3 separate regions of the Homo sapiens genome follow, and regions 2 and 3 are each linked to region 1. Evidence: fine-mapped expression QTL. A gene starts in region 1. Each other region holds a variant in brackets. All regions are shown on one strand. Distances are between the middles of the regions.

The links.
Region 2: its variant is fine-mapped to the expression of SYN2 in whole blood (TOPMed, PIP 0.99).
Region 3: its variant is fine-mapped to the expression of SYN2 in whole blood (TOPMed, PIP above 0.99).

The regions. Positions count from the first base shown.
Region 1 is chr3:12,002,890-12,005,650 of GRCh38, forward strand. It overlaps SYN2 (synapsin II), which reads left to right and starts at 1,499. Exons shown (of 13, transcript NM_133625.6): 1 at 1,499-2,039. The coding sequence starts at 1,663. RefSeq lists an enhancer at 2,198-2,698.
Region 2 is chr3:12,173,545-12,176,305 of GRCh38, forward strand. All of the region lies in intron 10 of SYN2 (synapsin II), which reads left to right. Among named protein-coding and RNA genes, the nearest start is that of TIMP4, 16 kb to the left of the region's middle. RefSeq lists a silencer at 2,474-2,553. The variant AT/A (reference allele first, on the strand shown) is at 1,473.
Region 3 is chr3:12,260,246-12,263,006 of GRCh38, forward strand. No RefSeq gene overlaps it. Among named protein-coding and RNA genes, the nearest start is that of PPARG, 27 kb to the right of the region's middle. The variant C/T (reference allele first, on the strand shown) is at 1,207.

The sequences.
Region 1 (2,761 bases):
AAGACCACTGTGTTATTATAGTTGACTGGAGACTTCTCTGATAGCACCGGCTCAGAGCTGGATTGTGTATCTCTAGGCCCTGAGTTGAGTGCCAGCTGGGATACAGGAAGCAAGAACTGCCCACCAACATTAGTGACAAGCCACTCCCTGACTCCATTCAGCCCAGTACATACTTACTGAGAACCAATTGAAAAAAGAATTCAGGCATCACTACTGGAATACCTACTGCTGTGTACCAGATGCTTTACATACATGATCTCATTTACTCCATGTAACAACTCTGGAAAGGGTTACTTATTCCTTTTTATCAGCTAAGGAGAGAGGCTCACAGGGGTTATTGATCCAGGGTCACATATCACCCGGGGTAGTCTGCTGTAAAGCCTATCTGCTGTGTCCTGCTCCATTACAACACAAGGGAAAGTATATCTAATGAGAGATGAAAACTAAAGGTCCAAGAGTCACGCAAGATTTAGAGAGTGCACATGGGAAGGTGGCCATCAGAAATGTCTTCACAGAGGTCAAGGCAACGAATAAAATGGAAAAAACAAGTAGAAAGATCTTGAAGAGATGTCCTTCTTGGTATAGCACTGGATGCATCAATGCATGCTAGGAAAGAAACACGGTGGGGTTGGGGGATCCTTAGATATCCCTCTTGGGGTGGAGACCATGTCTCCAGTCTTCTCTTGGTTTTCTCTCACTGGTCAGTGAGGAGGGGGAGAGAAGTACATACTGTTGTTGTCCCTAGAAGTGCAGGAGTGAAAACACACCCCACCCCTCCTTCCATGACAGAGTAGAGAGGATCTGTTTCTCCCCTTTCCTCTCCCTCGCCTTGGAGTAAGGAGGCTGCCTTCCTCCCTAGAAGAGGTATTTCTTTTTTGTCTCACCATAGGGTGTGTGTGTGTGTGTGTGTGTGTGTGTGTGTGTGTGTGCGCGCGCGCGCGCGCGTGTGTGTGTGTGTGTGTTAGTAACAGCGGATTATTCCCTTCCCCCTCTTCTGGGGGCTGGGGAGATGACATCTTTCTCCCCAGCGTTGGGAAAGGAGGTGGTTCTTTTCCTCCTCACTACAGGGTGTTCGTGCTTGTGTGCGTGTGTGCGCGCGTGATTGGGATGACTCCTTTCGTTCTCACCTCCGCATAGGGAGGCTGACACCTCTTATCCTTCCAAAAGGAGTGGGGTCGGTTTCCTTCGCCTCCATTTCAGCTGGGACACGGCTCTTTTTCTCTCCAACCAAAAAGATGGTGGGGCCTCTGGTTCCTTTTCCTTCCCCTGGGGAGAAGGCCTGGCTCCCACGCCCTCCCCGCATAGTCACGCTCAGGTTGCTGGAGGCCTGGGTCGCCCCCTCCTGCAAGCCCCGAGAGTCGCCAGACGCGCGGCTAGGTGCCCTCCGTGAGCGGGGCGGGGCCGCCTCTGCGGCGCGGGGCGGGGGCTATCTCTGGCCCCGCCCCTGCCCCGCCCGCTCCCTCTCCGCGAGCCTCGCGCCGCGCGGGTTGCCTGGCCCAGACCGCCGCTGCTGTCTGCGGGGTCTGGTGCCGGGGCCTGAGTCTCTGCTGGCTAAGCCGCCGCCTCAGCCGCCTCAGTCGCCTCAATCTCGCCTTCCGCCCTCGCTCTCCCTCCGCGCCACCAGACCCCGTAGCCCCGCGCGCCCCCAGCCCTTTAAGCCAGATGATGAACTTCCTGCGGCGCCGGCTGTCGGACAGCAGCTTCATCGCCAACCTGCCCAACGGCTACATGACCGACCTGCAGCGGCCCGAGCCCCAGCAGCCGCCGCCGCCGCCGCCCCCCGGTCCGGGCGCCGCCTCGGCCTCGGCGGCGCCCCCGACCGCCTCGCCGGGCCCGGAGCGGAGGCCGCCGCCCGCCTCGGCGCCCGCGCCGCAGCCCGCGCCGACGCCGTCGGTGGGCAGCAGCTTCTTCAGCTCGCTGTCCCAAGCCGTGAAGCAGACGGCCGCCTCGGCTGGCCTGGTGGACGCGCCCGCTCCCGCGCCCGCAGCCGCCAGGAAGGCCAAGGTGCTGCTGGTGGTCGACGAGCCGCACGCCGACTGGTAGGTGCCGGGCGCCGCCGCCCTCGGGGGTCGGGGTCCGCCGGCAGCCGCAGGCCAGGAGAGGACGGTCCCAGGTCGCCGAGGAAACGTTTCAGACCAATAAAAAGGAGGGTCCCCGAGGTCCCGCTGGGAGGAGGTGCGGGCTGAGCGCGCGCGCGTTTGCGGGGTGAGGGAGGGCATCCATCAGCCCGGAAAGGCGAACCCAAAGCTAAAATACCCCTCAATTGCCCCAGGTCCCCCAGGTCCCATACAAGAAGGAGCTACTTTATGCAACAGGAAAGGCCCTTAGGAAATAGTTTTTTTGGGGGTAGAGGAGGGGACACACTTGTTAGCTTAGACACATAAAATCTGAAGTGAAATAGTCCCAGGAGGCCGAAGGAACATTTAGGGCCAGTAAAAAAGGTTTAACTTCATGAAGCACGGAGTGAATTTGGAATGGAAATTGGTATTTTGGAGGGAGAAGGTGGTGGTGGGTTTTTTTTAACCAGGACCCATGAAGGCTGATATCAAGTATTGACATCAGGTTGATGAAATCACACATGTAGTGGCCCAGGTGTACACGGGCTTGTTCCCCGGAGCATGGCTGAAGTCTCTTTATGAATAATAAAATTGTTGTATTTTGTGCAGCAGGGAGGGGACGTGTGGAATTTTTTTTTTTTTTTTTTGATTGCTTGTTTTTCTGAAATGTGCGTGGTGGGGGGCGGGGCGTGGAAGTGAATGGT
Region 2 (2,761 bases), 170 kb after region 1:
TTTACCACATTTTCTCTCCTATCCTCTCTAGTCAGCATCCCGCTCCAACCATCCCACTGAAATGGCCCTTGTCAAAGTCACCTCCATGAGGCCAGACGCAGTGACTCACGCCTGTAATCCCAGCACTTTAGGAGGCCGAGGCAGGTAGATCACGAGGTCAGGAGTTCGAGACCAGCCTGGCCAATATGGTGAAACCCCGTCTCTACTAAAAATACAAAAATTAGCTGGGCATGGTGGCAGGTGTCTGTAATCCCAGCTACTTGGGAGGCCGAGGCAGGAGAATCACCTGAACCCGGGAAGCAGAGGTTGCAGTGAGCCGAGATCGTACCAGTGCACCTGGGTGACAGAGCAGGACTGTGTCTCAAAAAGAAAAAGTCATCTCCATGTCACTGAGTCCAGTGGTCACTTTTGTTCTTATCTTACAGACTTTTCAGTAGCATTTGACACAGCTGACTACTCCCTCCTCTAAACACTATTTTCTAGGCCCCTGAGGCCCCCCCGCCCATCGCTTGGTTTTCATTCTACATCATTGGCTTCCCCTTCTTGGCCTCCTTTGCTGATTCTTCCACTTCTGCTGAGTGTCTAAACATCAGTGCCCCAGAACTTGGTCAACGTACATTTGTTGGTGGTCTTGGCCAGCCTGTATCTATCTCCTGCCCTGACCACCCCTTCAAACTCCAGACTCACATTTCTAACTCTTGCTTGACATCCTTACTTTGCATATCTTAAAGGCACCCTAAATATAACACAGCCAAAGCAGAACTCTAGTTTTTCCCCTTAGTCCTGTCCCCCCAACATTGTTTTTCCCTAGCAATTTATGTAGGCCCCTACCTGCCTCTTTCCCTTGTACTATCCTAACTGTTGCTCACTGTGCCCTAGCCACACTGGTAAGGGCCTTTGTATTAGGCTGTGCTCTCTCTCTGAAATGCTCTTTCTTCTTAGTTTTGCATTTTTTTTGAGACAGAGTCTTGCTCTGTCACCAGGCTGGAGTGTGGTGGTGCATCTCAGCTCACTGCCACCACCGCCTCCCGGGTTCAAGCGATTCCCCTGCCTCAGCTTCCCGAATAGCTGGGATTACAGGCACGCGCCACCACGCCCGGCTAATTTTTTGTATTTTAGTAGAGACGGGATTTCACCATGTTGGCCAAGATGGTCTCGATCTCCTGACCTCATGATCCGCCCACCTTGGCCTCCCAAAATGTTGGGATTACAGGCATGAGCCACCGCGCCCAGCCATAACTGACTTTTCCTTAACAGTATAACTGATACTTCCTCAACTATCCAATCCAAAGCTGCCACCTACTCACTGGCTACCACCTCTCCCTTCTTTAATTTTCTGCATAGCACTCACTATCAGTTGAGATTATTCTTGTCTATTTAATTGTCTGTTCTACTAAAATGTAAGGTTCTCAAGAGTACAGACTTGTTTATGGCTATATCTCTAGGGCCACTGTATCTAGCACCTAGTAGCC[AT/A]TTAAATACATCAAGGGTGTACCAAGGGGAGACAGGTGAGAGTGGTTTGCCCAGGTGCAATCAGTTGGCTATAGAAAATTTTTAAAATAGCAAAACTAAGTTGGCCTGCTTTTTATTATCAACATATGATAGCAATTCTATACAAATGACATTGATAAAATACTCTTCCCACCAAGCAAACCACTCCTGCCCCACTCCCTTTGATGTGCCATTGTAATACATATTTGTTGAGTGAGTTCACCATTTGGAAGAGGCATCTTTAATAGCCCTATCAGCCTATTGGATTGATGTCAGGATCCTTTGGATGATCTTGGCAGTGTGCAAGTGGAAAGGATGTGAACCGAGGAACATTACCTGCATCCAAGCCAGGACTTTGCATAGCCAGCTCAGCCCTTAGGTGTTGTCACTGACTTGCTCACAGGCATTGTCACCATTCCTCACAGGCACCTCTTGCTGGCCTCTTTCTTCTGTGGCTGTGGAAGCTCAGGCTGAAAGAGCTTCTGGTCTGAGTCATAAGCCCTAGGAGCTGCTCCTGCCCAGAATTCTAGACCAAGACCAGGACAGACCTGTGGCTAGCCACTTGTCTACCCTTCTCTGTTTCTCCTTCTCTATCGTTGTCCTTAGCTCCACCATGAGTGCTTTCATTTATTTGATTCTAGAGGAACACCTAAAATGGGGACAGGGAGCTGGGGCTTGGGGTGAGGATGGTGATTAGAGGGCACACCTTACCTCTAGCCTGGGATGGATTAATTATAGAACGCAAAGAGCAAAGACATGGTGGTGGGCCCAAGCCAGCTGCAGTACACATTTCAAAGGAATAGAGGAAGGGGCATAAGAAGCACTGGCCATGTCACCAAGAGCAGGGAGGTGAGTGGTAAAGCCTGATCTGGTTGATGACAGCTTGGCCTCAGGCCTGGACAGACTGCCAGCTTGCGGGCTGCTGTGAGGGTCAGCAGCAGCAACTGACCCTCTGTACATGGACTCTGAAATGCTTTAGGGAGACTGTTCTCGAGGTGGCAGTGACACCTGGTGGTCACTCATGGCCAAAGCCTCCAGGCTCTATACCTGCAGAGTCTCTTCCCTGTACCACTGCCTTCCCACCACCCCTCCTACACATTCACTGACTTTAGGGGTCTCTTGTCTAGGATCTGAGCTGGGCCTTGCATCCTAGGGCTCTGATGAGGTGTGGGCTGCTCCTCAGACTCCCAGGAAACAGGGAGAGAACTTCAGGGGGACAGAGCTTTCAGGCCATGCCAGTAAAGATGGCATCTGGTCCTCTCCTTCATGT
Region 3 (2,761 bases), 260 kb after region 1:
TTTCTTTTTGGGGTGATGAAAATGTTTTAAAATAGATCCTGGTGGTGCTTGCACAGTTCTGAATATACTGAAAGCCACAGAATTGCACACTTTAAACAGGTGCATTATATAACATGTGCATTGTGTCTCAGTAAAGCTGATGTTTAAAAAATAGCTCAATCATAATTCCTCACTCAGGTGTGGGTTAGGAATATCACTTCCTTTCAAAGAGTACAGTATGGAAAGGGGGGGAAAATAATAATAACTTTATCATGGAGAAAGCTGACAAACACCCCCTCAGCCAGGTGGTCAAGGTTGACATGATGTGATGAGGACAGTGCTTAACTCTGTGGTCTCCCTCCCGCAAACCCACAACCCCAGTCGAACCGTGAGAGACACCAGACAAACCCCAACTGAAGGACTTTCTATAACATACCCAACCAGTCCTCTGCAAAACTGTCAAGGTCGTCAAGAACCAAGAAAGCCTAAGAAACTCACAACCAAGAGGAGTCCAAGGCGACAGGATGGCTAAGTGAAACGCGGCACCCTGGATGGGATCCTGGGACAGAAACAGGACGCGAGGGAAATACTGGGGACATCTGAATGAAACATGGGCTCTAATAATAATCTATGACAACATGGGCCCATTAATTGTGGCAAACGTATCATACGAATGTGAAATATTAATAACGGGAAACTGGGATTTGCCTAACTTCTTTGTGTCTCTTTCCTCGTCTCCGAAGTAGGGGTATTAATGGTACCCACATCAGTGGTTTGTGGGGTGTAAGTGATTTAAGCCATTATATAATGTTGAACAGTGCCTGACAGTAAGCGCTCAATACATGTTAGCTACCATTCCTATAGTTATTCATCATTTCAGACATTTTGTTTTAAAATGAGAGACGTTAAGAAAAAATCTACTTAGTGCAACCATAAAGCTGACTGTTTTAAAAGAGGTTCAGAAGTGCTGCCCTTGCCTGATGTTTATTAAGTAAACACTTTTTTCAGAGGGAGGTGATAGAGAATTGAATACATAGGTACCTTTTTCTCTTAAGCCATCTACTTTTAAGATAAAGTTGGAAGGAAGTGGAATAAAGTATGTACACCCAAGGGCTAAAATGTAAAGGGAATACTTTATATACTGCATAAGGGAGGAGAAATAGCAAGGAAACTGTAAATAGTTAGTCCCCAAATTAAAAACACCCAGCTCGGCCGGGCACGGTGGCT[C/T]ACGCCTATAATCCCAGCACTTTGGGAGGCCGAGGCGGGCAGATCACGAGGTCAGGAGATCGAGACCATCCTGGTTAACACGGTGAAACGCCGTCTCTACTAAAAATACAAAAAAATTAGCCGGGCGTGGTGGCGGGAGCCTGTAGTCCCAGCTACTCGGGAGGCTGAGGCAGGAGAATGGCGTGAACCTGCGAGGCGGAGCTTGCAGTGAGCCGAGATCATGCCACTGCCCTCCAGCCTGGGTGACACAGCTAGACTCCGTCTCAAAAAAAAAAAAAAAAAAACACCCAGCTCACAAATATCGCACATGTATATATACACACACAAATATTATGAATATAGTCAATTACAAAATACACAGTGCCTGGTTAAATTTGAATTGCAGATAAACAGCAAGTACTTTTTTTAGTATAAATTTGTCTCAAATATGGCATGGGATGTACACTAAACAATGATTTGTTTATCCAAAATTCAAATTTAACTAGGCATCCTGTATTTTTATTTGCTAAAGTTGGCAACCCTGCTGAAAGAGCATTATGCATTTCAGGTGTCGTGCGGTGGCTCAGGCCTATAATCCCAACACTTTGGGAGGCCGAGGCAGGCAGATCATTTGAGGTCAGGAGTTCGAGGCCAACCTGGCCAGCATGGCAAAACCCCATCTCTACTAAAAATACAAAAATTAGCTGGGCATGGTGGTGGGCAGCTGTAATCCCAGCTACTGAGGAACCTGAGTTACGAGAATCACTTGAACCCAGGAGGCAGAGGCTGCAGTGAGCCGAGATTGTGCCACTGCACTCTAGCCTGGGACAGAGTGAGACTCCGTCTCAAACAAAAATACAAATGATCATTATGCATTTCAATGTTTATTATGTTTTCTTTCTAAGATAATCATGAGGCAGGGCGTGGTGGCTCACACCTGTAATCCCAGCACTTTGAGACGCCAAGGAGGGCGGATGGCTTAAGTCCAGGAGTTCACGACCAGCCTGGGCAACATGGTGAAACCTCATCTCTACAAAAAATACAAAATAAATAAATAAATAAAATACAAAAATTAGCCGTGTGTGGTGGCACATACCTGAAGTCCCAGCTACTTGGGAAGCTGAGGTGGGAGGATCACCTGAACCCGGGAGGCAGAGGCTGCAGTGAGCCACTGCACTCCAGCTTGGGTGACAGAGTGAGACCTTGCCTCAAAAAAAAAAAGATAATCATAAGAAACTTAGAAAACTGATCAGAAGTCCCTCTGAATGTCTCATGCATTTGCTAAGCAGTAATTCTGTAAGCTGCAGTGATGCTGCTGTGTTTCCGTCAAAGGTCACCAACTTGTTGGAAAAAAAATTAGAAGTTGCAACAATGATATCTTTAAAGAAATTAATTTATCAAATCACCTTTTCTATTTAAATTCAAGAATAAAAATGTTTTCTATTATAGTTTCGAGGTTTCAGTGAGAAAAAAGGAGAAAATGTTAGTGAATGAAAGAGAAGCAGAGAAGAACAGCAGATGTGGAGATGCAGGGAGGCATGAGACAGAGACAGAGAAAGGCAGACGGGAATGAGTG